7 linked regions of the Homo sapiens genome follow. The protein of the gene in region 1 interacts with the protein of each later gene in a biochemical or structural test. Each region holds a gene or a part of one and is shown in the gene's direction. Other genes may lie near its edges. The genes, in order: RAPGEF6, CRB2, DGKZ, MAST1, MPP7, PDZRN3 and CLDN14.

Region 1 (4,093 bases):
ATATAGTATGAGCCCAAGTTTTGTTTTTGGGTTTTTCTATCAATGATTTGTTATCTGAAAAAAAAAAAAGGATATATTTATCAATAAATGCAACAGTGACTTCTGTTAATATTGTGAAATAGAAATGTATATTTCAGTGTTCAGAGGGATCACTGTGTTTCACGTTGCTTTTTGAAGGGTTTAAAAGTGATTTTTTTAAAAAATAACAAAGCATATCTTTCTATTTATGTAGATATCCCTGATCAAGTTATAAGAGTTTTCAAAGTGGATCAGCAAAGTTGCTACATTATCATCAGTAAAGACACCACAGCTAAAGAAGTAGTTTTTCATGCTGTTCATGAATTTGGTTTGACCGGTGCATCCGACACATATTCTCTCTGTGAAGTTTCTGTTACTCCTGAGGGTGTCATAAAACAGAGAAGACTTCCAGATCAGTTCTCCAAATTAGCTGATAGAATTCAACTCAATGGAAGGTGAATAAGCTTATTAGTGGATGTGCTTATTTGTAGATGTGCTTTTGAAGATTTCCTGTTAAAACAGCTATTGTAAGTAGAAACATTATCATGTTTTAGTGCTCCTAAATTCACTCCAGAAGACGCTTGATAAAATATCTTGTCACTCCTGCTAAAATAAACTCTTAGAACCACTGATATAATCTAGTTCCTGTTTTTTTATAGAGGAAGCTGAATGATACAAATCTTCATATATATCTGAATGACTGTATCTACTAATTTATAAATTTGTTTTTAATATGGCCAGTATGTACTTTGGCAAAAGAAGCCATGGTTTTCACAGTTCTTTTTCTAAGTAGTTTTCCTTTAATGAATATGCAGGAAAATTTTAAAAATTTTAAAATGTGTTCTGAAAATTATTTAATAAACTAGATTATTTCTGTAGTACATTTGTTCCTTACTCTGGTTTTTTTTTTTTTTTTTGAGATGGAGTCTCCCTCTGTCGCCCAGGCTGGAGTGCAGTGGCGCGATCTCAGCTCACTGCAACCTCCACCTCCCAGGTTCAAGCGGTTCTCCTGCCTCAGCCTTCTGAGTAGCTGGGACTACAGGCACATGCCACCATGCCTGGCGAATTTTTGTATTTTTAGTAGAGACGAGGTTTCACCGTGTTGGCCAGGCTGGTCTCAAACTCCTTACCTCAAGTGATCTGCCTGCCTCAGCCTCCCAAAGTGCTGGCATTACGAGTGTGAGCTACCACACTCAACCACTCTGAGAATAATCTTTTTGGTAACCCAGTTTCATATGTAGAACAAGATCCCTAGAAAGCTTACAGTGACTGCATGCCATGGTTGCTGTGAAATGAGAATGAGTTAACTCTGTTTTGCTGGCTGTACATAGTGGTTAAGAGCATAGACCCTGGATTCAGATTGCCCACATTCAAATCCCAGCTCTGGCTATGTGACCTTGAGCAAGTCATATGTAGCTTCTCTACCTGAATTTCCTCACCCATAAAATGAGGATAGTAATAGTAGAATATACCTCATGGGAATGTTGTAAGGATTAAATGAGTTACTAAGTATACCATACCTTATAATGTTAAACATTATTATATATAGCATAATGAGTTTCAGCACTATTATTTATGGCATTGTCTTAGGCATATGAACAGTCTAAAAGCAGAAAAAAGAGTTTCTTGACAGTAAAAAATAGATGGATAGATGGATACAAACTTAGGCTTAAATCAAGTTGGATTATTAGAAAAGAACGAAGTAAAAGCAGGTGATACATTACCTCGTTTCCTTAGTAACATCCCTGCACAAGATGTTTCCTGTCTCTTACTTTTAAGTGCTGTAGAATTGTTGATTTAAGAGAAGAAAGCAAAATATAGGTCTTAATGTGTGGTAACTGATAAGTGCCACTTGCTGGAATGAGGTTTTGTATTTAACAAGGGAGAAACCATTAGTGGAAGTGTTTCCCCTCCTCTGTAGATTTCATTCCTCTTGCTTCACTTGGAAATTTATTTAAAAAGGAAGTGAGTGGAGTAACTTCTGAATAGAGATTTTTAACCGTCTTGATTCAGGAATTTATTTTGCCTTAATTAGAATTCATGCTATTCATAAACAAATATTTACATAGTACCAATCCTCTGTCAGATAAAACAGTAAGATAAAAGCTTTACGAGGGCAAGGCCAGTACCTAAAATAGTATCTGACAGATAGTTTCATAAAATAATTAAGTTCATGACATAACAACATTATTTTTACTCTTTAATAGATGCCAGTTGGTAGAATAAGAGACAGACTTCTCAAAAATCTTTTCATTTAAAATGTTAACTTTTCATTTTATCTGTAAATTAATATTTTTGGCTAAAAGTTATTAACAGTAAAATGATATTTTACAACGACAAAAAGGAAAAGTGCTCTTATTTAATCATATTTATGAATACATTTATTTAAAAAAATTTTTCCATTTAGGTATTACTTAAAAAATAACATGGAAACAGAAACCTTATGTTCAGATGAAGATGCTCAAGAACTAGTTAAGGAAAGCCAGCTATCCATGCTGCAGCTCAGTACCATTGAGGTGGCCACCCAGCTGTCAATGAGGGACTTTGATTTGTTTCGTAATATTGAACCGACTGAGTACATCGATGACCTTTTTAAGTTAAATTCCAAAACAGGAAATACTCATTTGAAGAGGTTTGAGGACATTGTAAACCAAGAGACATTCTGGGTTGCCTCAGAAATTTTAACTGAAGCAAATCAGCTCAAACGAATGAAGATTATTAAGCATTTTATTAAAATTGCACTTCATTGTCGAGAATGTAAGAACTTCAATTCCATGTTTGCAATAATAAGGTAAGTTGGTACAAATAGGTACAAATGTCTGTATGGTTTTGTCATTACATGCAGCTGATTTTCTACTTAGGTATTCAATGCCTATGAAAAGAAATGTTCAATTAATATGCCTTTATTGAAGTGTTGTTAGATTTAATGTATTTTCCATTTTGGTGGTATTGGCTTTTTCTATTTTTGTTTCTTCCATCTTTCTTTTACTTCTTTTTTGTAAATGAAAGTGGGTGATTGCCTTCTAATTTTTCTTTCTCTCCCTTCATCTCCAACCCCCCGCCTTGAGTGATTATATCATCTTTGGATATGTGCCCAGTGGCTGGTCTTTATCATTAGACTTCTGTACTGTGCTTTTTTAAGTACCTGCCTCACTATGATTTGACTCTGAAAAATCACAGTATGGTATCAGTACTTTGACCTAAAGTTGCTATTTTGAAACAACAACATTGATAATAATGGCAACCATTTGGTAAGCTCTTCCTGTTTGCCAGGCACTACATGAGGTTCACTGGATGTGGTGTTCCTCAAGCAAGTTAGGCTGTTAGAATAATAAAAATGTTTTGACATTCATAAGCCCAGGAAGTGTAGATAATTACGTGAGCTCTCCCACTCCCTTCTTCCCACTTATTATGAAAAGTTAATTGTAGGTAATTTATTTTCTGATCTTTATTTAGCACACTGTAGATCAACAAAGGGATTCTTCTTAAAACAAGTTTAATTTTAAAAGGGAGAGGAGTTGTAGTTAGCTCCATTTTTAAGGCCATGATGTGCTTATAAATCGCAGCATAATTCCACTTGAACTAATCCTACCTATACACATCCCCCACAGAATTCATAATGATTTGTTTCTACTCCTCATGTAGATTAAGATTAAAAAGTAGAATCTTTATAGGGACTCTTTATTCATGACCCTGTCATGGTAATAGGATGTGCCTTTATTAAATTAACCAGTGTCTACAACTGAACTGAACACTCTAGGAGTATTGAATAGAGATTAACAGAGTGGTCTTTAGAATCAGCTGCACCTGTATTTGAATCCTGCCTCTCCCATATAGTAGCAATGTGTCAGTGGAAAACTGAAGATAGGTTTTCTTATCTGTAAAATACCACCTATATCACAGTTTTTAAACAGCTAAGTCTAAAACAGAGGAATAAAGATGCCACTGATAAACACTTGGAAGGCTAGAAATGGAACCTGTTTGTAAAGGAAGCATCAAGTAAAGAATTTGAAAATTACGGGCTCAGTTTTAGAGTCCACTATGAAGAAAATTGATTGACACTGAGAGAATAGAT
Region 2 (4,750 bases), on another chromosome or scaffold:
TGGAGAGGGGCTTCTCCCACCTGGGGAGAGGGATCCTGTTGTATTGGAGAGGCAGGGGATTAAAGATGGACTGAGAGAGGTTAGTGTCCCAGAAACCAAGGGGCAATCCCTGCCCTGGAGAGAACAGGCCTCAAGGGCAGGGATGGGGCAGGGGCAGTGGATAAGGAGTCTACCCAGGCCTTTTTGGGTTCCCTCCTTTGGTCCCTGGGGACCCAGGGCTGTGGCACTTGCCCCGGGCTAGAGGGTCGGCCAGGGCCTGTGTGGTGCCCACTGCTCCCTCCCCTGCACTGCAGGGGACCCTTGCCCATCCCTCTAGCTCATCTGGACCTCCCTCAATGGCTCCTGCTGTCTTTCCAGGCTGTGTCCTCCCGTGTCAGGGACACATCCCAGAGCCCAGGGCCTGCGTGGGCTGTATCCACGGTTACTGAATAGGGACAAACAGGCATGTATTGGCAGGGGCCGGTGGCTCATTTCAGGAAAGTCCCTTCAGCAAGAGGATTCTCTCCCCACTGGGGCTGAGGGTGGTAGAAGAAAGGAATGTTGTTCTATGTTGTAGTGTCTCTGAGATGACCTGGCTTCCTGAACCAGGTCCCCCTGAAGAGCTCCTCCTGTCCACCCCAACAAGAGGCCAGCTGGAGAGCAAGCAAACATCGAGTGCAGCAGGAGACTATAAGGTTAGACAACAAGAAGGACTTCCTGGCAGGGGAGAGCAATGCTTGCTTGGTTAGAGCTGCCTTTCAGTAGAATGGGCTGCTTTGGATTGCAGTGAGGTCGCTGGAGTTGCAAACAGCAGAGCCAGAGATCAAGGTCAAGTGGAAGAAAGCTGGGAAAGGTTCAGTTTGGCTGGTGAAGGGTGGAGAGGGTAAAGGGAGGCAGGGACCACCGTGGTGCAGGGGTGAGGTGCCCTGCAGGGAGCTGATCCTGAGGCCGATGGTGGGAGGAGCTGTGTGTGGTCGGGTGGGACGGGGTGGGGACAGCAGGAGACACTGAGAAGGTGGCATGGCCAGGAGCTAGGGGCTGACCGAGTGTGGGGAGGGGGGAGTGGGGAGGGGGCGTTGGGCTGCCCGATGGGAGGTGCCTTGGCTCCGATGGGAGCACTGGGGAGCAGCAGGTGGGGGGACGAGCTGGGTGGGAGGGGCTGCAGCTTCCCAGCAGAGACAGGGTCTGGGAGGCGACTGGACTCGAAGGCCTGGGCTTGGGAGAGAGGCCCGGGCTGGAGAGGTGGGGAGGGGGATCCAGGAGAGGGGATAACTAAGGACTTGGGAGTAGCTGGCATCACCTGGTGAGACGAGAGTCCTGAACAGCCCCCTCTCCAAGGACAGAAATTTCTCCAAGGAGGCTGACCTGAGAGGTGGGAGGAGAGTGGGGCAGAGGGTCAGGAGGGAGAAACCAGTGGGTGCCAAGACCAGGTCAGCCCCACAGGCTAGGGGGCTTGAGGACTTGGGGCTGATGTCTAGGGACGTCCACGAGGTGGAGCAGCCCAGGAGGCCTGGGTGGGAGGAGGAGGCGGTGGCGGGGAGGGGAGGGAGGGGCTGGGCCTCTGTCCACAGCATTAGTGCTGGTTGGAGGGACGAGGGGGGTGCGGAGCCAGCCAGGCCGCCCTCCCGTTCTCACAGCAGCCGAGCAGAGCGCAGAGCGGGCTGCCATGGCGCTGGCCAGGCCTGGGACCCCGGACCCCCAGGCCCTGGCCTCTGTCCTGCTACTGCTGCTCTGGGCCCCTGCCCTTTCCCTCCTGGCTGGTGAGTTGGGGCCCATGTCTGGAGGGGCCTGGGAGAGGGTCTGTCCCCCAAGACAGATACCCCAAGCCTTGGCTGCTGGGGTGGTGGGTGGGCTGGTCCGCGTGGGTGCAGGCCTGAGCTGTGGGGTGCACAGGAGTGCGCGGCTGTGGCCCCCAGACTCTGTGGGGCTCCACGGAGGTGAGTGTGTTCTGAGGCTCGGGGCTGTTTCATGTTGAGGGGGGTTGTAAGTTTCGGGGTTGGGGGATCGGGGGCTGGGCATGATTTGGGGGAGCTGATGCGGGTGAGGGATGGGGTGCGTGTTTTGGGAGGTGCTGTGTTGCATCCTGTAAAGGGCTGGGGGACTTCTGGGTTTCTAGGGGCTGAGTTTGGGGAGTTGCAGGTGGCATAAGCCTCACCCCAGAGCTTGTTCTGTGTCGCATGCTGGGTTGTGGGGCACAGGTTGTGGGTGTGTTAGAGTTGGGAGGTGGATGAGCTGTCTGGGGTGAGCCGTGAGTTGTGTCCGAGGAGTTGGGTGTGGTGAGCTGTGTCCTAGCACACGCTGTGGGGTGTAGGTTGTCCAGGGTTGAACTAGGTCTTTGCTCTCAACATGAGGGGTGTGGGATGTGCACAGCCGACCCCAACTCGGGACTGAGTGGAGAAGCGTGAGGGAGACTCAGGGAGCTGGGTGCCTGCCCGCACCCCTCCATTTGTGCGGTAGCCCTGCCTGTGCTGAGGGCTGCTGGGGATGCTCTGGGTCCCTGTGGGGTGGCTGGGGATTTGGGAACATGTGTGTGTCCCCTGCTGCCCCCTCCCCAGCATTCCAAGGCCAATCTGAAAGGGCTCCCTGAAGCCAGACCACATTTGCCAAGCCCTTTTTGCTTTTGTCCAAGCTCTCGGAGCCTGGAATTCCTCCTGGGGGGTCCAAGGGAACGCTTGGTGTTAGTTACTATAGTTACAGGGGCCGGGCCTGGGAAGTCCCCTGCCCCCACCACCACAGGCTGGGGAGGGAGCCAAGGAGGGCCTGGGCTCTCCTGAGGCTGGGGGAGCCCTCCCTGCCCCAGAGCTCCACAGGCTGTAGGGTGTGGGGGCCAAGTGTCTCCCAGTCCCACCTGGGGACCCTCATGTTTCCCGCACTCACAAAGCTTTCATTTCCTATCCTCTCTATGGGGCCCTAGGGAGGATGAGGACCCCATTTTGCAGTGAAGGAAACCAAGGCTCAGAGAGGGACGGGGACTTATGAGCTGGGCTCTGCTGGCAGGCGACTTGGGCTCCATAGAGGGGTGGGGCATGGTGGCGGGGGGCGGGGTGGCTGCTCCTCTCTGTTCTCTGCATACAAAGCACGTGAGATCCCGGTCTGTGGATCGGTGCTCTGTCCCCTGCCCTGTGATGCTCACACACCCACACTCCGCACACCTGTGTGGCATGCCCAAGGGCACACAGCACCACAGGGACAGGTGCTACAGACACATGTGGATCTACCAGCACATGCACCTACCTACACACATGGCATGTGCCTGCACACCAATGTGCACACCCCAACACGCACATGTGGACATGTGTGCATTCACACTCAGTGTGCACTCACAGGGGACCTGGAGGCACAGAGTGGATGGAGGCTGTGGGGGGTCTGGACACTGGTGTGTACACTCAACCCATCAGGCCTGCTGGGTTGCCCAGGGGCAGCCTTTCCTCTGCCATTTCTGTGCTGGGAGCGCCATCCCTGGGGATCCCTAAAAGTTGGTGGGGTACACTGCAGGCATGACCATTTCTGCATGCTGGTACCCTAGACTGCCTGCCGGGAGGGGAGGGATTGGGGATTTTGTCACTTGAAAACCAATTTCCATCCTGGAGGGGATGGGGGCTTCTGGAGGCCATGGGCCCCTGGCTTTTCTCCCCACCCCTGCCAGGCCCTGAGCTGGGCCTCTCCATCCTGGGCCCAATTTGCCACAAAGGCCCGGCTGGTTGCCATGGAGAGGACCAAGCATCTTGGAGTACAATGGGGCACGTTGGGCTCTCATATCCACCCTCCCTTCCCCAAACACCCAGGGAGCCCAGCAGACAAAGGGGCAGTGAGTCCAGGCCCCAAGTCCGGCCCCTCCTCCAGCCAGAAGGGGGTGGGGGCCTGCAGGACAGAAGCAGAGATGGAGCAGAAAGCCACACACATTCAACCCAATGTCAGGATCCTTTGGACAGTGGGTGTCTGCCTCAAGTAAAGAATTGTTAATGAGTAAGATCAGCCACTCCATGGCAGGCACTGTGCTATTATTAACGAGGTCTAATTTAATTCTCCCAACAGCCTATGAAGTCAGCTCTGATACCCCTAGTTTACAGAGGAGGTAAACGAGGCCCAGAGATGGCCAGTCCCAGAGCCAGGAAGCCCCAGAGCCAGTGCTGGGATTTCACAGTACACTGTGCTACTTGCCTAGGCAAAGTCACGTCTCTTCTCTGTCTCTACAAAACGAGGACAGACTGGCTTACTCCGAGCGCTGGTATAAGGATTGGAAGAGAATGCAGTGAGCGGTTCCCCACCCCAGGTTTTGGCATGGAACCCCCAATTTCAAGGGAAATTTTAGATGGAAGCCCATGAATAGTTAATAGTAAAATTGTTAAAAGTGGCCTGTTTGGGTGGCAGGTGGGGAACCCCACCTGCTCTGTCTCCCCCTCACTTCAGGAGGTAACTCCCTGGAACTGTGCTCTGAGCCCAAACTCTCAAGGGTTGGTCAGTGCCAGGCACAGGGTAGGTGCTCCGTCCCTGACAGCTATTGTTGCAATTACTGTTATCAAAATTATGTCTTTTAACCTCAGAAGGTAAACATTTTTGAAAAAGAGTATGCCAAATTATTCTGCCCAAAAGAGAATTTCACCCTTTCCTGATGACTGAGTGAGTGTCTGCAAGCCTCCATGGTTATTCAGCCCTACCCTTGTAGGGTAGAGCCTTGGGGCCCAGGGATATTAGATGAACAATTTCTTCCCCTATGCTAGAAGTTCCCACACCTTATGAGATCTTAGGTCGCTTCTTAGAAATATTCTGT
Region 3 (4,093 bases), on another chromosome or scaffold:
ACCCTGGGGAGCACCACGACTTTGAGCCCCAGCGGCATGACGACGGCTACCTCGAGGTCATTGGCTTCACCATGACGTCGTTGGTGAGTGGGCCCTGGGCCCATGGTGCCTGGGAGCACAGCCCAAAGGTGGAAGGGGTCACCCATACTCACCTCCATGGGCCACGGCGGCCTAGTTCACCCTCACCTCCCTTCTTTGTCTCATTCCTCTGGCTTGAGAGCGGCACCTACCCCCTCTCCTCACTATGCCTCGGGATACCTTCACTCCCCACTCTGACTGGAGCGTCACCCTCATTGCCTCTGTCCCTTCCCTTTCCTACCTGGGGTCTCAGCCTCCCCTCTGCCCTCTGGCCAGGGGTCACTCTCACCTTTGTTCTCTGGCTAGAGTTTCTGCTTCGGAAGGAGCAGAGTCTGGGACCCCCCTGCCCCCAGCCCTGGTGCCATCTGACCCAAGCTTCCTGTGCCCACAGGCCGCGCTGCAGGTGGGCGGACACGGCGAGCGGCTGACGCAGTGTCGCGAGGTGGTGCTCACCACATCCAAGGCCATCCCGGTGCAGGTGGATGGCGAGCCCTGCAAGCTTGCAGCCTCACGCATCCGCATCGCCCTGCGCAACCAGGCCACCATGGTGCAGAAGGCCAAGCGGCGGAGCGCCGCCCCCCTGCACAGCGAGTACGTCCCACCCTGCCACGTGCCCTGGGTGCCAAGGCCAGACCCTGCCCTCTCTGGGCCTTGATTTCCCCATCTGTAAAAGGGGCTGACTGTCCCTCTGCCCCAGGGGTGTTGGGAGTGGAGCGGGACCTTCTCTCGGCAAGTGGTTTGGTGCCAGGCCGAGGGTGGCACCAAGGCAGGGCCCTTGCTGAGCCCCCGCTTGCCGGCCCTGCCCGACAGCCAGCAGCCGGTGCCAGAGCAGTTGCGCATCCAGGTGAGTCGCGTCAGCATGCACGACTATGAGGCCCTGCACTACGACAAGGAGCAGCTCAAGGAGGCCTGTGAGTGCGGTGGGGCGGCCTGGCAGGGTGGCCAGGAGGGGCTGAAGCAGCCGGGGCCCCCTTGGGCAGGGCTGTGGGGTGCAGCCAGCTGCTGACAGGTGCTCTGTTCTCCAGCTGTGCCGCTGGGCACTGTGGTGGTCCCAGGAGACAGTGACCTAGAGCTCTGCCGTGCCCACATTGAGAGACTCCAGCAGGTAAGGGGTGGGGGCTTCCCCAGGTGCCCACCGAGAGGGTGGTGGGAAGTGAGGCCAGGCCTCTTCCTCCCGCAGCCAGCTCGCCCTGCGGAGCCTCCTCTGTGCTGGTTCCCCCTACTCCAAGTTCCCTTCCCTCCCTGGCCCCCACTCTATCCCAGCCTGGCCTTTGCTTCTCTCAACAGGAGCCCGATGGTGCTGGAGCCAAGTCCCCGACATGCCAGAAACTGTCCCCCAAGTGGTGCTTCCTGGACGGTGAGTCTACTCCCAGGGTGCCAAGCTGTTTCGTGTTCCCTCCCTAGGGGATCCCAGGTAGGGGCAGCAGAGGACCTGGGCCTGGACATGGCACTCCCTGATCCTCAGCTGCCCTCTCTCCCACAGCCACCACTGCCAGCCGCTTCTACAGGATCGACCGAGCCCAGGTGAGCGATTGCAGGCCTGCTCCAGCCACAGCTGCTTCCGGGCCCCAGGGTCGCCTCTCCTGGGACGCCTTCCCTGTTAGCTCCCCCGATGGGCTCACCTCTGTCCTCATGCCTCTGAGAGCTTTTACTATTGCCTGTGTGCATGGACAGCGTGCGGCCCTGCCCTCCACACTGGAGAGTATAGGGCGGTGCCAGCCAGAAAGGCAGTGGGGTACCTACCAAAGGCTTGCTGGGTGGGTAGGAGGGCCTGGAAGCCCAGAGCCATCCAGGGAGACACAGAAGCAAAGGCATTCTGGTCAGGCGCCAGCTCACCTGGTAAAGTCTGGGCAGTCGGAGGAGGTGTCAGGAATGGGAAGGAGTGGGAGAGGGACAGGCAGGGCCCCTTGCCTGGCCACCTCCTTTCAGTGTTTGTGCTCATGGCAGAGGCTTCTCCAGGTCTACCAGCCTTGCTGCCCCTCGGCCCCCACCGTCAGGTGCCCTGACCTCCCGCCCTGACCTCCCCCCACAGGAGCACCTCAACTATGTGACTGAGATCGCACAGGATGAGATTTATATCCTGGACCCTGAGCTGCTGGGGGCATCGGCCCGGCCTGACCTCCCAACCCCCACTTCCCCTCTCCCCACCTCACCCTGCTCACCCACGCCCCGGTGAGTCCTGGTGTCCCGTCCCTCCAGCCCCTGGCTTTCAGCCCCACCTGTAAGCCGATGACTTCTGAATCCCTGCTTCTAGCCCCTCCACCAGTTAACTAAATGGTGTCAACCTGAACCTGGCCAAAGCCCACCTGACGGCCTTCAGCCCTGTGGTTCTGTGGGGAAGCGGCCTCACGTCCACCCTGGTTCCCTCCCTGACTTCTCCCTCCTCTGGACCTCATCCTTCAGCCAGTCCTGGCAGCCCCCGGACCCACCACCTGAGCACTCCTCCCCACCCCTACTGCCACCAGCCCTTCCCGGCTGCCACGCCCTGGCCCCCAGCTCTTATATCCCTGTGGCCATTCGTGCCCTCGAACCCCCATCTCCATACCACGGTCAACTAAAAATGCAGAGCATACCAGGCCACTCCCCAACCTAGAAGCTTCTTTCTCAGCAGCCCTTTGGACGTGGATTCTCCCCAGGCCCCCCGTCATTGCACTGGGCTCCCAGCCCCCTCCCTGAGTTCACCTCCATGGTCCTGCCCCACTCTCTTCTCTTGGTTCTTTGAGGCATCAGGTGTTTGCCACCACTGGACTTCTGTCATCGCTGCCTCCAACTCTTCCCCCATCTTTCCGGAGCTCCCCCACCCCCATCCCCTTCGAATCTCAGCTTGGCTGTTTCCTCCTTGGAGAGATCACTCCCAGGACCCCCTCTGCAGGGGTGCCACATCACCTGTTCTGAATTCTTAAGAGCACCCCTGCTCTCAGAACTCCTTATTTATTTGACTTGTTTGTATCCCTGAACTAGAATGTAAGCTCCATGAGGGCAAGGCCTTCCTCTGTCTCGTTTCCCTGCTGTATCCCCAGTGCCTGGAATAGTGCTTGGTGTGTAGCAGGCACTCAATAAACTGTGGAAAGGATGAAGATGCCCCCAGTTGGGGTTGGGGAGGGCGACCAGCTGGCCTGTGCCGTAGCCGGTCACAGCACATCATGCTCTGTTGCAGGTCACTGCAAGGGGATGCTGCACCCCCTCAAGGTGAGGCCTCTCCCTCTGGGGCCCCTCCTTTCTGCCTGGTTGGGGGCAGGAGGCTCAGTGGGGTGGGGATAGGGCCCAGACACAGCCTTACACAAACACAGCCTTTGAGCTTCACGCACCAACGGAGCCCTGGGCACACATGCCTGGCCGGCACAGTCCTGTCCACTGAGGCACCAACCCAAGCCCAGGCCTCCGACTGCAGAGTAACAGGCAGGTATTCCGTGCAGGTGAAGAGCTGATTGAGGCTGCCAAGAGGAACGACTTCTGTAAGGTACTAGCTCCAGGCTCCAGTTCCTTCCCCCAGCAGCTCCCTCGGGCCCTGGGGAGCGAGGCCTCTGGGTTGGGCCAAGAGCTGACCTGCTCAGGTGCTGTCATCTGTCATCGTCTGGCCCTCTGTGGGATCTCCAGTGATCGTCCCATTCCACTTCACTGTATCTCTGTCTAGGCCACAATAGATGGCTCCTAGTAGGGGCTTCCTAGCTCAGTCCACCTGTCCCTGGTGCTTAGAAAGGAGCAGGTCAGAGGAAGCACTGCTCCAGGGCTTGGTCACCAGTGCTGCCAGAGAGCCCACAGGCTGTGGGGTGAGAGGCCCCTCCTCCGGTGTGCTCCAGAGAGACCCACAGAGGCAACTCAGGAGTAAGATGTGTGAGCGCACTCGTTTCAGGCCTGTGCTGGTGTACCCGGCTGTGGGCCAGCGTGTGAGCTCAGGGAAGGAGGGGTGGCCCCAGGAGGTCCAGCCCTGCCATGCCTCCTGCCCTCAGCTCCAGGAGCTGCACCGAGCTGGGGGCGACCTCATGCACCGAGACGAGCAGAGTCGCACGCTCCT
Region 4 (3,562 bases), on another chromosome or scaffold:
TTATAGATAGGAGGAGCTAGGTGGGAGGTGGGTGGGGCCAGAAGGGTATTCTGTTTGTTTGTTTGTTTTTAGTATTCTGTTTTGATCAGTGAGTTTGGCCCAGACAAGTACAGGGATTTGGGTGAGAGGAGCCAGACGGGGTTGAGATAAGTACATTTCTTCCCACTCTTATAGGTGGGTTGTAGTGGAAGAGGCGGGACTAGAGGCAGGTGGGACCAAGTTGGTTTTGTTTGGATGTGTTTCTAGCCTGGACTGGGAGTGGCCAAAAGGTTGGGCAGGACCTGAAGTGGGAGGAGGGAGGAGCCAAGCAGCACTGAGTTAAGGGAAGTTCTGTCTTGATAGGTGGGTTGTAGTGAAAGACGGAGGGACTAGAGGGGTGGGCAGGACTAGAAGAGGTTGTTTTTGGCCGGGCGAGGTGGTTCACACCTGTAATCCCAGCACTTTGGGAGGCCGAGGTGGGTGGATCACCTGAGGTCAGGAGTTTGAGACCAGCCTGACCAACATGGTGAAACCCCATCTCTACTAAAAATACAAAAATTAGCTGGGAGTGGTGGCTCACTCCTGTAGTCCCACCTACTCAGGAGGCTACTCACGAAGCTGAAGCACGGTAATCGCTTGAACCCGGGAGGTAGAGGTTGCAGTGAGCCGAGATCGTGCCATTGCACTCCAGCCTGGGCGACAAGAGCGAAACTTCGTCTCAAAAAAAAAAAAAAAAATGGTTTTGTTTGGATGAGTGTTTGTAGCCAGAATTGGGAGTGGCCTAAAGTTGGGCGGGGCCTGAAGTAGGAGGAGCTAAAGGAAGTTCTATCTTGATAGGTGGATTGTAGTGGAAGAGGGAGGAGCTAGAGAGGTGGGCGGGGCAGAACAGGTTGGTTTTGTTTGGATGCTTGTTTCTAGCTTGGACTAGGAGTGGCCAAAGGGGGTGGGTGGGGACTGAAGTGGGAGGAGCCAAGCAGCACTGAGCTAAAGGAAGTTCTTTATCTTGATAGGTGGGTTGTAGCTGGAGAGGGAAGGGCCAGAAGGGGTGGGTGGTTACCGTTGTGAGGCCGTGAAATGGGAGGAGCCCTGAGCTCTGGCGTCCAGGTCAAGGACGCTTGGCCCCCTCCCTGTCCCGCAGCAAGAAGCGCAGCTCCCTCTTCCGGAAGATCACGAAGCAGTCGAACCTGCTGCATACTAGCCGCTCGCTGTCGTCGCTGAACCGCTCGCTGTCATCCAGCGATAGTCTCCCGGGCTCGCCTACGCACGGGCTGCCGGCGCGCTCGCCCACGCACAGCTACCGCTCCACGCCTGACTCCGCCTACCTAGGTATTACCTCCTGCACCTGCGCGGGGACCGAGCAGCGCGGGGTGGCCTGGCTGGTGCTTGGGCTGTACTCACTCGCTTCACCTCCTGTCTCCCGCAGGCGCCTCATCCCAGAGCAGCTCCCCAGCCTCGAGCACGCCCAACTCGCCTGCGTCGTCGGCGTCGCACCACATTCGGCCCAGCACGCTGCACGGACTGTCGCCAAAGCTCCATCGCCAGTACCGCTCTGCGCGATGCAAGTCGGCCGGCAACATCCCTCTATCGCCGCTGGCACACACGCCGTCCCCCACGCAGGCGTCACCGCCGCCACTGCCGGGCCACACGGTGGGCAGCTCGCACACTACTCAGAGCTTCCCGGCCAAACTGCACTCATCGCCTCCCGTCGTGCGCCCGCGCCCCAAGAGTGCCGAGCCCCCTCGCTCGCCGCTCCTCAAGCGCGTGCAGTCGGCCGAGAAGCTGGGAGCCTCTTTGAGTGCGGACAAGAAGGGCGCGCTGCGCAAACACAGCCTCGAGGTGGGCCACCCGGATTTCCGCAAGGACTTCCATGGCGAGCTGGCGCTGCATAGCCTTGCCGAGTCCGACGGTGAGACGCCCCCAGTCGAGGGCCTTGGCGCGCCCCGGCAGGTCGCCGTCCGCCGCCTGGGCCGACAGGAGTCACCTTTGAGCCTGGGCGCGGACCCGTTGCTGCCCGAGGGTGCCTCCAGGCCACCAGTGTCGAGCAAGGAGAAGGAATCCCCGGGGGGCGCCGAGGCGTGCACCCCACCCCGCGCGACGACCCCCGGTGGCCGGACCCTGGAGCGGGACGTCGGCTGCACGCGGCATCAGAGCGTGCAGACGGAGGATGGCACTGGCGGGATGGCCAGGGCTGTGGCCAAGGCGGCGCTGAGCCCGGTGCAGGAACACGAGACAGGCCGGCGCAGCAGCTCTGGCGAGGCGGGCACACCCCTGGTACCCATTGTCGTAGAGCCTGCGCGGCCCGGGGCTAAGGCTGTGGTGCCTCAGCCTCTGGGCGCGGACTCCAAGGGGTTGCAGGAACCCGCACCCCTGGCGCCTTCCGTGCCCGAGGCCCCCCGGGGCCGGGAGCGCTGGGTGTTGGAGGTGGTGGAGGAGCGCACCACGCTGAGCGGTCCTCGCTCCAAGCCCGCCTCCCCAAAGCTCTCCCCGGAGCCCCAGACACCCTCCCTAGCCCCAGCGAAGTGCAGTGCACCCAGCAGTGCAGTGACCCCAGTCCCACCCGCATCCCTCTTGGGCTCAGGCACCAAGCCTCAAGTGGGGCTGACCTCCCGGTGCCCTGCTGAAGCTGTGCCCCCAGCAGGCCTGACCAAAAAAGGAGTGTCCAGTCCCGCACCCCCGGGACCATAGCCAAGGGGGTCATCGGCCCCGCGCTGTACAGCCTCCGTATACATATGTACACATATAAATAAAGTGCGTCCGTGCTGCGTGAGTTTTCTGGGGCTCACTCCTCTCCAGGCAAGGCGAGACATCACACGACCCCACCCCCATGCCCAGGTGCTTTTTGGGAGGTGGGACTCCAGTTCTGGTTACCATGGAGAGTGGAGGGAATTTTGGATAGACACCTCCTGTGGTCCCACTTCTGGTCTCACCTCTGCACCAACTGCCCCCAAACCTTTAGGGGGAGAATTGAAGCTGCGATGCTCTTGTGTCCCAGCGCCCACCTGAAGAGAAGGTTAACAGCCTCGTCCACCAATTTCCATTTATTTACTCCTCAACAATCCTGATGGCAGGTATTATGTTTCCCATTTTGCAGACAGGTAGACTGTGTCACAGAGCGGTTAAGGCACACAATCAAGGTCATACAGCTAGGAAGGGGATGAACTGGGATTCAAAATCAAGTCCAAACTGGTTCCTGAGCCCTTAGATTTTTTATTTTTTATTTTTTTGACACAGAGTCTCATTCTGTCACCCAGGCTGAAGTGCCGTGGTGTTAGCTCAGCTCATGACAACCTCTGCCTCCCGAGTTCAAGCGATTCTCCTGCCTCAGCCTCCCGAGGAGCTAGGACCACAGACGCGTGCCACCATGTCTGGCTAATTTTTAAATATTTTTAATGGATATGGGGTTTCACCATGTTGGCCAGGCTGGTCTCGAACTCCTGACCTCAAGTGATCTGCCCATCTCAGCCTCCCAAAGTGCTGGGGTTACAGATGTGAGCCACTGCACCCACCCGTCCCCCGCCCCCCCTTTTTTTTTGAAACAGAGTCTTGCTATGTGACCCAGGTTGGCGTAATCATAGTTCACTGT
Region 5 (4,093 bases), on another chromosome or scaffold:
TAAAAACTGACATTTTGAAATACTTGGCTCTGTTTATATTATTAAACACAGTTTAAAAAAATTACGTGTTCAGCAGAAACGTCTTTTACCTATGAATTTTATCTTGCCACCTATAATTGTTTTAAATTCACAAATGATTCCAATGCATTTAATTTTTTACAGGTTTATTGAATATGGAGAATATAAAAACAACTACTACGGCACAAGTATAGACTCAGTTCGGTCTGTCCTTGCTAAAAACAAAGTTTGTTTGTTGGATGTTCAGCCTCATGTAAGTAAACAATGAGCTATTCAATACCCTTCTGACCCATGTCATCTACAGCACCTCATGTGAGCATTTCAGTATGAAATAATATGAAGTCAACTCACTTTTGGCATATATGTGGCTTTTCTGAGATGGCAAAAGCATTTAAATATAATTGGAGACATCTTTGGTGGAGAAAAAGAAAAGCCCATAATATTATTAGAAAGAGAAGTGGAGGAAGCTCCAAGACCTGTGTTTGTAACTCTTATTTATATTCAGTTTTTGTCAAGTAAAGCAACTCTTAGATGTTTCTACATATTCTGTATTTTTAAAAAATACATCACATTGTTACATGCATAATGCATTCTTATGTGTTATGTATTAGTAACAGTGTCTATAATTTTTAACGATGGACATTTTGGTTCCAAGTCTTTGACTTTGGTTCTGTATATATCCTAGCAAATAACCCCCCACTAGAACTGAAGGGCATTTTGCAGGAAATGTACTGAATGAAAGCCCCATTGCAACTGCCATGTCTGCACCTGTCATCCTGGAAACTCCATTATGAACATTCTGAACTGAGAACTTCAGTGGATGAGGCCATTCAATTCCCTATCAAACCATACATCTTCCAGCAGATCCCCAGCCCACAGCATTTTCCTCATCCCCCAGGGACCATGGTTTCTCCTTCCACTGATGGCTGTACCCTGGGGTGCAAAACCTCCAAATGCTAGAATGACCTGCGGAAGCCCTTTGGACCTCTAAAGGAAGATGAATCTGGAGTAAAAGTGTTTCAAGAATCAGGAAGGCTGCCTCCTGACTTGGGCACTGTGTTAGTCCCTTGTTGCACTGCTCTGAAGAAATACCTGAAACTGGGTAATTTACTAAAAAAAAAAAAAAAAAAAAAAAAAAAAAAGAGGTTTAATTGGCTCACTGCTCTGCAGACTGTACAGGAAGCGTGATGCTGGCATCTGCTCAGCTCTGGGGAGGCCTCAGGAAACTTGCAATCATGGCGGAAAGCAAAGGAGGAGGGTTGAGCACTTCACATGGCCAGAGCAGGAGGAAGAGAGAGAGAGGAGCGAGGTGCCACACACTTTTAAACAACAGGGTCTCACGAGAACTGACTATTGTGATGACAGCACCAAGGGGGATGGTGTTAAACCCCGGGAAAATGCCCCTATGATCCAGTCACCTCCCACAGGCTGCACCTACAGCAGTGGGGATTACATTACAACATGAGATTTGGGTGTGGACACAGATCCAAACCATATCAGGCACCAACAGTGAATGGGACAGTCCTGCTTATGCAGAGCCTCTCTGCTGGTGTCCCAGGTCCAGTTGCTGTCAGACTCCCACAGTGTAGTATCAGCTCATGAATAATAACTTTCAGCTCTCACCCTCTGTAGATAGGTCCCCAGAAGTATAGAGTATAGAACATCAAAGATTTGATGAAGGAATCTAGACAGGCATCATGGAGAGCAGGAGGCTGCCCTTGTAGGGTACTCTGAAGGATAGGGTGAAAGAGGAGAACTCCTGCCTGAAATCAGAAAGGGGCTTAAAAGGGATGGTTGGAAGACATTTGTGGACAGAAAGTTATTTAACTCATCACACCTTTGGAATATTTGATCTAAAAACCAGTTTTGTGATATTTTTAGTCACTTCTGTTCAATGTTAATTATGATGTATTTCAGAACATTTTAAAATGCCAAGTTACATTCCCCAGCTTCTTTTCAGAAGTGTTTGTTACATTTAATTGTCAACAGTTAATTGAATAATAATATATTGAAATGACTACTGACCTTAAAGAATAATTTTGAGGAATTTTCTCCTAGAAAGAAAATTCAGTAATTCATGATGCTATGGAGAAATGTGAGAAAACTTTCTTTTCTTCCTTGTAGACAGTGAAGCATTTAAGGACACTAGAATTTAAGCCCTATGTGATATTTATAAAGCCTCCATCAATAGAGCGTTTGAGAGAAACAAGAAAAAATGCAAAGATTATTTCAAGCAGAGATGACCAAGGTGCTGCAAAACCCTTCACAGTAAGTATAATGATGCTTGGGGGCCAGGTGTGGTGGCCCACACCTGTAATCCCAGCACTTTGGGAGGCCGAAGCAGGAGGATCATTTGAGTCCAGGAGTTCAAGACCAGCCTGGCCAAGGTGGTGAAACCCCATCTCTACAAAAAATATGGAAATTAGCCAGGCATGATGGTTGGACACCTGTAGTCCCAGCTACTTGGGAGGCGGAGGTGGGAAGATCATAAGACCCCAGGAGACTGAGAGTGTAGTGAGCTGAGATCACACTACTACACTCCAGCCTGGTAGGCAGAGGTGGGAAGATCACAAGACCCCAGGAGACTGAGAGTGCAGTGAGCTGAGATCACACCACTACACTCCAGCCTGGGCGACAGAGTGAGACCCTGTCTCAACAACAACCACAAAAAGCTTGGAGATAAGATATAAGCAGTAGATAAGATGTAAGATACAGTTGTATATATGAAAACATATATACAGCTGCATGTACTTGGGAAGAGTATAATAGATACAAAAATCAGTGAAAGAATTGTATTTAGGTACATACCTTTTGAACAGTTACACTTCTTGTGCTTTGGTGAATGGATCTTCATATTCAATTGACTCAAAACTATTTTGTATACTATTATGTGAACATTTCATACTATTGTAGGCTGAACATTTGTATAAAATCTAGACCAATTAATTTTCAGAGCAGCCTTATTTTTAAAGCTAAAAATACCATCAGTAACTGTTACTCATTAAGAGTCCAAATGAAAAATTTAATAATGTGCCTTGCTTGTCTCCTTGTGTCAACAATTATATTTAGCACAGCAAAAGAAAATCACTATTTTGGGTATAGGATAAGTAGACCAATATTATTCAGCAATAATATTTGTATTTTCTATGAGTGTTATTGGAAATGATGATTGTGGTATATTCATGACTATTATGGGTTCTGGCAAGACCTTTTATTGTTTTTCTTCTTAATCTTAATATATTCTACCTTTGGACCAAAAATCAAAAGCAAAGAAATTAAATGTGAAGAGCTTATTTTTTTCTTGCCCCTCTTAATTAGCTCATCATTAACTTTAGTTTATATTAATTTATGAACTGTTCATTGTGGTTACAAAATACAGATCACATTTCTGATTCCCAGTATATTTGATAAATACCTTTTTTTACATGCCAACAGTACATATCCGTTCTGAGTAGGTACTGTCATACAATGTTAGTTACTCAGGCTCTTGATCAACACTAAAATTAAATTTTCTGTTATTGTGAAATCTTATGTGACAATGAAATGCAGACTCAAATTATTTCAGCATGTTGCAACATAAAGATTTATTGTACTATTTAGACATTTTAAAGGTTTCTCAACGAAGATAAGAAAGGATCACATATTCTTAGGATTTGGCTCTCTTACATTTATGTTATATAGCCAACTAAAATACTTCCTGGCTTTAAAAATGTGAGACACGAAGGCTCCTGAAACACTTTTAATGAGACATCGAAGGAACGTGGTAATCAGCCGGGCGTGGTGGCTCATGCCTGTAATCCCAGCACTTTGGGAGGCCGAGGCAGGTGGGGATCACTTGAGGTCAGGAGTTCCAGACCAGCCTGGTGAACATGGAGAAAATCCATCTGTACTAAAAATACAAAAATTAGCCAGGTGTGGCGGCACGCTCCTGTAATTCCAGCTACTCGGGAGGCTGAGGCAGGAGAATTGCTAGGACCCCGGAGGCAGAGGTTGCGGTGAGCCAGGATTGCACCACTGCACCCCAACCTGGGTGACAGAGTGAGACTCTATCTCAAAACAAAAAACAAAAAACATG
Region 6 (4,093 bases), on another chromosome or scaffold:
AGCTTGTTCATAAATCTTTTGTGGTCCATTGAGACTCTTCAAGTTCATCTAGTGGAATATTCCATAGCCTGAAATGTTGGACTTCTGAATTCCTGTGTGTTTTGAGTTTTCTCAGTGGGAGACAATATTGCACACAGAGCATGTAATGTGCAAGAGGATCCGCTTCGCCTCAGTTTGAAACTGAGCCATACCACTTTTTAGCTGTGTGACCTTGGATGAGTTTCCGAACCTCTCTCAGTCTCAGGTTTTTCACCTGTGGAATGGGTAATAATAGTACTTACCACTTGTGGTTATTGTGAGGATTAAACAGTGCACATAGAGCACTCACTATGTACCTGGTACCTAGTTTGTGCTCAGTAAAGGAAGCTGCTTTGCAGCTTTATACATATATTTCAGGTGTGCATGTAGGGAGCTACACGGATGTGTTCAGACTAGTGCCTCAGTAAGGCTGCCGTGAGAGAGGAAGGAGGCACAGAGGTATTCAGATGGTAAAGGGTTAGTGTGCAGGAGGTCTGTGCAGAGCACTGTGATGCTAGGCAGGGATGCCTTTTGAGGATAGATGATCCTACACAGCACCCACAGGCTCCCTGACCCTTCTCTTGGAAGAGCGTTGATGGAATCCAGATGCCAGTTAGAGACATATCTTTGTCATGTGGGGATAAATGTCAGGAAAAACACTTAATGCTCATTTTAGGTTGTGATTTTGGTTTCTTTTGGTGAATCATATAACATTTTACTCTGTGTGTGTGTGTGTGTGTGTGTATGTGTGTGTGTGTGTTTGGGGAAGTGTGAAGAAGGAAGGAGAGAAGGACTGAGAAATGTACATTTTTCCAAGCTTAGTTATTGCTGTTGCATTTGAAGGGGTAGACTGAATCACACTTGAAGTCGTTTCCTTCCCCCTTTAGAATATAGGGATTGTTTTTTGGTTTTGTTTTTTGCTGTTTAAAGTGGAAAATGTTTTATTTGAAGAGTTATTTTTAACAAATGGAATTTTTATGTATTTGTATTCAGAGTAATTGTTATTGAAATAAATCTTCTAATGACATACGGCAAGGAATTTACCATGACTAGATTTTGGAGTTTTTGTGGAACATTCTGAGCTTACATTTCAAATGATTTTGTTTGGAAATATCACATGCTTGTGCCATTTAATTTATAAATCCATCTGTTAATCACTAGAAATTTAATCCGTACACTTGGAGAGAATTCATTGCAGTGCTGTTTGAAAAGAAGTTCGTGAACAAGCTGTGAGGGTTTTTTATGAGCTTGTTGGAGCCTTTTGATTTTAAGGAAAGGAAGGAGTTTGAACAGTGAGCTGTCTTCGTTCCCAGAAAGTTTTAGTTCTGACATTTAATTCAAAGATCTAAAGAGATTCAAGGAGGTCAGAGATCAGAATTTATTAGGACTAGAGTGATGGTAGTGCATCGGAACAAAAACAAAATATCTGTTTTCACAGTCAAATTATTAGATATTTACAAGTTTAATAACATTCTGTGCAAATGAGGATGTGGGAAAACACTCTGTCTAATGAACAATAAGTATAAACTCTCTGAAAAGCCATTTGGCAATATCTTTGAAATGTACATATCCTTTTACCCAACAGTTCCATTGTTAGGGATTTGCCCTAGAACTATAATAGCAAAGATAATTTAAAATACAAGTAGGAGAGTATTATCACAGCATTGTTTAATCACAGCAAATGAAAACAGTGTTTATTAGCCTCATGTTGGATACTGTTCAGTCACTTTAAGAAGTAAGGCAGACACGAATTGGTAGCAGAAGATCTTCATGATTTTTAGAGTTAAATGAGAGAGGCAAGGACATAAGAGTCAGACTAGCATAATCACATTTGTATGCAAAAAGGAACAAATGCATATTTAGGAATATGATGTGTTAAAATGTTTTCAAAAGGATGCATAAAGTCAAATAGCTACCATAGGCGGGGGAAGAAGGACAATGGGTTGGAGATGGCAGGGATGCATCATTTTATGTCCTTTGGTGTGGTTTGAAATATTTTACTGTGTGTGTATTTTAGTTTAAAACAGAAATTAGGAGAAACAAATACCTTTTACCCTATTGCCACTCTTGACACAGCAAGAGTCAATTACTGTTTTAAGAGTGCAAGCTTTACTTTCATGCTCAACTTAATGCCTAGCATTCATGCATGTTTTTTTTTTTAACCCAAAGGATAACCACGATGGATCATCCAGTGAAGGAATCTTTGTATCCAAGATAGTTGACAGTGGGCCTGCAGCCAAGGAAGGAGGCCTGCAAATTCATGACAGGATTATTGAGGTATGTGAATACTGGCCAGTGTCTTTGAATAGGCTGAATGCCATCCCATCTTCGTCTAGCTCAAAGCAAGATGTTTGACTGGGGAGGGAGGCCTAAAGTGGTAGATGGTTGAGCGGGAGTCTCACTTTTCCCATTGTGTGGGACCAGATTGAGTGTTGATTGCCTTGGTGTTAAATTTTTGTTAAATGTAGAAAAGCCAGATTATGAGTGGAATGTTCACAATTTGGCTTTTTTCATGTGGACCTCAATCTGTTTCGTATGCATCAGTTACAGTTTCGCGCGAAAACCGTTGAAGAGTTGGATGTTAGAACCAGATGAACGAACCCTGTTGTACAAATTGTGCACCCTGTTCATATTGATTACCAGGGTACAATTGTGTCAGCTTTGGAGTCATTCTAATGTCCTCAGAGCTCACACAGCACACACTTATTTCTACAAATGCATTGTTCTCTCTGTTAGTTTGTCGTCTTTGCCTGTTGTTAGTTGTACAACCTGATTGCCCAGGGATTTGCAGGCAGAGGTTGATATTAGGGTTCACATATCATCACTTACTCCATTTTCAGTTCGTCATTCATCATTTCAAACTTTTATACAGCAGGTTTGTAGACTCATGTAGGGGAAGTGGATCTCTCAGCCCCACCAGACAACACTTTGTAACAGGGTTGCAGTGTTCTAGGATGCTCTGAGTCACTAAAAGGGAGAGAATGATTTGTTGCCTTCTCATATGGGCTCTTGTTGCAAAGTTTGATATAAATGAGTAATTTTTTACTGGTGTTTTGACCATTTTCATAGCTCTTTGGATGGATACACATATGGGCTAAATTGATTGGCTTTCCTATTAGGCAAAAAGTAAATTTGAGAATCCACGATGATATGCCAGACCCCACAAGAAATTCACCCATGGGCCACAGCCGTAATATAGTGCAAATAGAAGAAACCAGAAAAACAGCACCGATACCAGTGGGTGTTTGTTTTCCACATGCATTTTTATCATGTCTGTATTTCCTGAGTATTTTCATGGCCTATTTCAAAATTTAGGACTGAGTGGGAGCTAGGACCACGAGCTAAGCCATAAGTGAAGTTCACATCACTCACTGGAATGTGGCCACAGGCTTCTCCTGGGGAAAGGAGCCTCAGCAAGACAGAGAACAAAGTCTTGCATTTCCAGTCTCATCTGGACACATTCTGCAACGTGCAGTATGCTTCAGGATAATTTGTAATCCTCAGGAAAATACACAGTTAAATCTCACAGGGAAAGCAAACTGAACTAGTTAGGGTGTAAGGCTCCCTCCTCGGAGGGAGTGTGATGTGCTAACTTACATGCTAAAATGATACTTGATTTTGTTTTAAGGACATTATTAATATTGTTGCATCCCCTTTGAATGTTTGAAGGGTTCTTAAACTTGGAGCTTTTTTTGCTGCATGGTTTAGAGTCAGTCTTTGTACTTCCCAGGTCAGGAGACTGGATTTTCCCTAACAGGAATTTGCTTGGGCAAGAGTGCTTTCTTAAGAGCTCAAATGCGTTACTTACTGTCTTTTTTGAGAGTGAATACATTTTCTGAGACTATTGTTCAAAAAGATAAGTACAGCTTCCGTTGCCAAGGGTTTGGTGGAACAGCCAGTTTCTCTAAGTAATGGAATTTCATTGCTCTTGTGTTTTGCAAATGAGAAATCTACAGCTGGGCAGGATTTTCTCTTGGCAAAGGATGATCTGTATTTGAAATGTTGAGTACGGTTTCTGGTAAGTCACATTCCTATTTTGGACAGTATGTAAAATATTAATCATGTAGTGTTGAGA
Region 7 (4,093 bases), on another chromosome or scaffold:
TTTTCGATTCTACAGAACACTGCAAGAGCGTCTCTGTTCCTTTCAACATTCTAACTCAATGCACTCATTGTTTTAAGGGGGGAAAATCCCAATGTCCAGTTCCCAGCATGTCCATAGCAGGCAGGGACAGCTTCACAGGCACATGATCTGTGCAGTTACAGGGAGCCCCGTGCTCAGACAGGCTTGCACTTGGCTTGATGTTCTGCAGACGCCATCTTGACATTCTTAATAATTTCTGAACAAGGGGTTCTGTATTTTCATTTTGCACTGGGTTCTGCAAATTATCTAGCAAGTCCTGAGAGCAGGCAAAGGTAACCTACAGGGCCTGGTACTCTTCAGAGCAAATGCACAATCTGGCCACTGTGTGTATGTCTAAAGGCTAAGCCACACCTGCCATGCACTACTTTAGCTGCAAGGCCTTTGCTTACACAAGGATTTCTGCAATCTGAAATCTCATACCTGACCCAATTAATTCTAAATGTCTTTATATCAAACTATCACAGGCTTTTCTGGAAGACTCACCCAATCATTCTCACCACTGTGAGTGTATGCTTTGGGGCCTGGGCCAGGAGGAGATTTGTTTTCAAAGGTCATCCATGGGCCGAGGGCAGTGGCTCACGCCTACAATCCCAGCACTTTGGGAGTCCAAGGCGGGTGGATCATGAGGTCAGGAGTTCGAGACCAGCCTGACCAACATGGTGAAACCTGGTCTCTACTAAAAATACAAAAATTAGCCAGACATGGTAGCAGGCGCCTGTAATCCCAGCTACTCAGGAGGCTGAGGCAGGAGAATCACTTGAACCTGGGAGGCGGAGGTTGCAGTGAGCTGAGATCGCACCACCGCGCTCCGGCCTGGGTGACAAAGTGAGACTCTGACTCAAAAAAAAAAAAAAATAGTCATCCATTAAAATATAAATGCCTGTGGGGTAACTTCTTGGCCAAGATTAACAATGAGGGAGGCTCAGTGCCCACAGTGGGCTGGGGTCCCAGGAAGAGGACCCAGGTTGTAAGAACAGGCTTCCGTGGGGCTCTGGGAAGGTAAGAGCCAGAAGGCAGCAAGATAAATAAAGAACCACCCCCCCAACCACTTTTTCTAGATGGCAGAAGGCAAGGGTGCAGGGCCACAGGAGGGAAGGTAAGATTGTAGCTGGAGAAGAGGATTTCAAGCGAAGGGAGTGGGAGAGCCTAGCCTTATGGGTAGGTGAGACAATATTCCAGGGACAGGCCAGAGACACCTGTCTCCATCTCAGGAGATCCCAAAGAGAGCCTGCACTCAGCAGGCAGGCCCAGCAGAACAGACATCTGAACTATGACTCTCTGTTAAACCGTTTTGGACTCTTTAAAGCTCCTAATAGGACCTTTAAAAGTTACATCAGGCCAGGTACGGTGGTGGCTCATGCCTGTAATCCCAGCACTTTGGGATGCCGAGGAGGGCAGATCATTTGAAGTCGGGAGTTTGAGACCAGCCTAGACGGAGTGAAACCCCGTCTCTACTAAAAATACAAAAATTAGCTGGGTGTGGTGGCGTGCACCTGTAATCCTACTGTGCTCCAGCCTGGGTGACAGAGCAAGACTCTGTCTCAAAAAAATAAAATAAAATAAAATAAAAAAAGTTAAATCAATGAAGCCAGCGGGGCTGGGTGCAGTGGCTCACACCTGAAGTTCCAGCTACTCGGAAGGCTGAGGCGGGAGGATCACTTGAGCTCAGGAGGTCAAGGCCGCAGGGAGCCGTGATTGTGCCACTGCACTCCAGCCTGGCCAACAGAGTGAAAAATAATTTTTAATGAAATAAATAAGCCATTGGTTCTCAAACCTGCCTGCACATCAGAATCACCGGGTGGGGGAGAGGAGCTCGAAAATTCCCATGCATGGACCCCACCCCAGTCAGCGAATCAGAATCTCTGGAGGTAGCCAGGGCATCCGGATCTTTTTAAAGCTCTCCAAGGGCTGCGGCTACAGCAGGAGGGTGGAGAGCCACTGATCCAGGTGACTTCTCCACGATGAACAGACCTTCTCTATTGTCCTCAATGTCCCTCCATCCCAGCTTTGACGCCACGGCCCGCCATGATGTTCACACCTTTGTGTGCACGCATATTTCCCTTGGCTGTCTGCCTTCATCATTTTCCCCTAGGAAAATCCCCACCAGGTCCAGTCCAGCCCTTTGTCCACTTGGGACCCTCGCAGTGCAGTTGATGGTGCTGGGAAAGGCTGTCCGGCGTGATAGTCTATGGTACCCGCAGGACCACTTGCCCCACCTGCACCCGGCACTGACTAGCACTTGACCCCTTGACTTGGTCCAGGCCTGCGGTCATTCTCCTGGATGACCATGGTCTCCTCCTCTGTGCTCAAGCCTCCCGCACCTCCTCCCCCATCTCCTGTCTCAAGACATCATGTTGCTTCTTATTTCCCTGAGAAACTTGGAGCAAACTCAGAACATGCGTTATTGCCCACTGACATCTCCCCCAGCCTCCTGCTCCCGCCTCCCCTCCCGTTCTGGAGTGAGTTCTCTGCATGCTGGTCAGAGCTGGTCTCTCCATGTGCACACAGGATCCCTACTGCCCCTACAGATGTTTCCCTCCTCGCTGAACCATTTCCTCAGGCATGCAAACATGCTTCCATGCCTCTCATCTTCAAAACAACAGCAAAACAAGGGTCCTCTCTTGCCTACACATCCCACTGGCAGAGGTTTCTAACTCTTTTGGTTTAGTTTTTTGTTATCGGTGTTGTTCTGGGTGGCGGGATGGGGATTGCCTGGGATTCCTTTGGCAATCTGGCGAAGCTGATGTATTCTTCTCAGCACAATACTTTTAAATGTGTAATATAACACATAACATGCAGGATTATAAAGGAAGTGAATTATAGTAAAACATAGTTATCAAAATATTTTAGTGCAATTCTGTTCCTAGTAATGGACGACCTTCCTTATTAATGCATTACATCATGAGGTCTAGCAAGCATCTTATAAGTATCATTTGAAATTGTTAGAGTGATAAATGTCCTTTGCAGGTATCTGCAACGCCTGTAATGCGATGCAAAATATCATGGTCTCTATTGCTGATTAAGGCACAGGCACTGGTCATATTGCTGTAGGTGGCTGCCTACATTCAGGATTGAAGGAAATGCTAATTGTCAGTGAGAGGTAGATGAAATAGAAGATGTCACTTTTTTTCCTGGCTGAGTTGACAGATATCCTGAGGTCTATGGGCCCTGGAACCCATCCTAAAACTGTTGCCTCATTTCCTGATTCCCCTGGAGGGTCCAAGTTCCTGAAAGAATTCTCTGGGCTCATTCCCTCCTGTCCCTCTGTCCCTATTCTCTCTTGAACCCACTCCAATCAACTCCGCCGAAACTGAGCTTATCAAGGTCTCCAATTTCCTTCATGTTGCTAATCCAGTGACCACTTCTCAGTGCTCAGATGACTTGATTTATCAGATTACTTGACTTGACAGAGTAGATTGCTCTCTCCAACATGGAGCTCTGTCCTCCCTCACCAGTCTCCTCTGGGTTGACCGTTCACTATCGCCCATTCCTACAGCCCGTGGCTGGCTCCTCTTCCTACCTCTATCCTCATCCCTCCCCTGATGTTGGAGGGTTCCTAGAATCAGCCCTGGAGCCCCTGCTCCTCTCTATCTAACGTTCCCTCCTAAGAGACTCCATCCCATATTTTAATCCCATCTCCATGCGGTGGTGACACAAACAGACTTCTCCAGTTCAGTCCCTCCCTGAACCCTGCACTTACATATGCAACCATGGTTATCCCCAGGTGGGTAGGCACAGACATCTCAAACTGAACAAGTCCAAAAGAAAATTCCTCTCTTCTGCCCTTCATCCTCTGTATCAGTCAGAGTTCTCCAGAGAAACAGAGCCAATCGAATATGCATTTATATAGAAAGAGATCTATTTATTCTAAGGAATTGGCTTGCATGATTCTCAAGGCTGGCAAGTCCAAAATCTGCAGGGTGGGCCAGGCACAGTGGCTCACACCTGTAATTCCAACAGCCTTGGGAGGCCAAGGTTGGAGGATTGCTTAAGCCCAGGAGTTCAAGACCAGGCTGGGCAACATAGTGGGACCTCCATCTCTATAAAACATTTT

Evidence for each region.
Region 2: the proteins of RAPGEF6 (region 1) and CRB2 interact in a test that uses a peptide from one of them, tested with the Homo sapiens proteins (one large-scale study listed by IntAct).
Region 3: the proteins of RAPGEF6 (region 1) and DGKZ interact in a test that uses a peptide from one of them, tested with the Homo sapiens proteins (one large-scale study listed by IntAct).
Region 4: the proteins of RAPGEF6 (region 1) and MAST1 interact in a test that uses a peptide from one of them, tested with the Homo sapiens proteins (one large-scale study listed by IntAct).
Region 5: the proteins of RAPGEF6 (region 1) and MPP7 interact in a test that uses a peptide from one of them, tested with the Homo sapiens proteins (one large-scale study listed by IntAct).
Region 6: the proteins of RAPGEF6 (region 1) and PDZRN3 interact in a test that uses a peptide from one of them, tested with the Homo sapiens proteins (one large-scale study listed by IntAct).
Region 7: the proteins of RAPGEF6 (region 1) and CLDN14 interact in a test that uses a peptide from one of them, tested with the Homo sapiens proteins (one large-scale study listed by IntAct).

Annotation. Positions count from the first base shown.
Region 1 is NC_000005.10:131,460,421-131,464,513, reverse strand, and holds part of RAPGEF6 (rap guanine nucleotide exchange factor 6), read left to right. Parts: intron 1-232; coding exon 233-473; coding exon of another isoform or gene 474-477; exon of another isoform or gene 478-901; intron 902-2,425; coding exon 2,426-2,809; intron 2,810-4,093. UniProt on the Homo sapiens protein: Guanine nucleotide exchange factor (GEF) for Rap1A, Rap2A and M-Ras GTPases. Does not interact with cAMP.
Region 2 is NC_000009.12:123,354,616-123,359,365, forward strand, and holds the start of CRB2 (protein crumbs homolog 2 precursor), read left to right. Parts: upstream 1-1,581; 5' UTR 1,582-1,645; coding exon 1,646-1,739; intron 1,740-4,750. UniProt on the Homo sapiens protein: Apical polarity protein that plays a central role during the epithelial-to-mesenchymal transition (EMT) at gastrulation, when newly specified mesodermal cells move inside the embryo.
Region 3 is NC_000011.10:46,374,963-46,379,055, forward strand, and holds part of DGKZ (diacylglycerol kinase zeta), read left to right. Parts: coding exon 1-83; intron 84-469; coding exon 470-669; intron 670-888; coding exon 889-989; intron 990-1,103; coding exon 1,104-1,183; intron 1,184-1,365; coding exon 1,366-1,435; intron 1,436-1,439; exon of another isoform or gene 1,440-1,522; intron 1,523-1,561; coding exon 1,562-1,602; intron 1,603-2,110; coding exon 2,111-2,250; intron 2,251-3,235; coding exon 3,236-3,267; intron 3,268-3,494; coding exon 3,495-3,538; intron 3,539-4,028; coding exon 4,029-4,093. UniProt on the Homo sapiens protein: Diacylglycerol kinase that converts diacylglycerol/DAG into phosphatidic acid/phosphatidate/PA and regulates the respective levels of these two bioactive lipids.
Region 4 is NC_000019.10:12,872,207-12,875,768, forward strand, and holds the end of MAST1 (microtubule-associated serine/threonine-protein kinase 1), read left to right. Parts: intron 1-1,117; coding exon 1,118-1,305; intron 1,306-1,402; coding exon 1,403-2,664; 3' UTR 2,665-2,746; downstream 2,747-3,562. UniProt on the Homo sapiens protein: Microtubule-associated protein essential for correct brain development. Appears to link the dystrophin/utrophin network with microtubule filaments via the syntrophins. Phosphorylation of DMD or UTRN may modulate their affinities for associated proteins.
Region 5 is NC_000010.11:28,054,673-28,058,765, reverse strand, and holds part of MPP7 (MAGUK p55 subfamily member 7), read left to right. Parts: intron 1-162; coding exon 163-271; intron 272-916; exon of another isoform or gene 917-1,120; intron 1,121-2,142; coding exon 2,143-2,286; intron 2,287-4,093. UniProt on the Homo sapiens protein: Acts as an important adapter that promotes epithelial cell polarity and tight junction formation via its interaction with DLG1. Involved in the assembly of protein complexes at sites of cell-cell contact.
Region 6 is NC_000003.12:73,600,556-73,604,648, reverse strand, and holds part of PDZRN3 (E3 ubiquitin-protein ligase PDZRN3), read left to right. Parts: intron 1-2,187; coding exon 2,188-2,295; intron 2,296-4,093. UniProt on the Homo sapiens protein: E3 ubiquitin-protein ligase. Plays an important role in regulating the surface level of MUSK on myotubes. Mediates the ubiquitination of MUSK, promoting its endocytosis and lysosomal degradation. Might contribute to terminal myogenic differentiation.
Region 7 is NC_000021.9:36,473,257-36,477,349, reverse strand, and holds part of CLDN14 (claudin-14), read left to right. Parts: intron 1-4,093.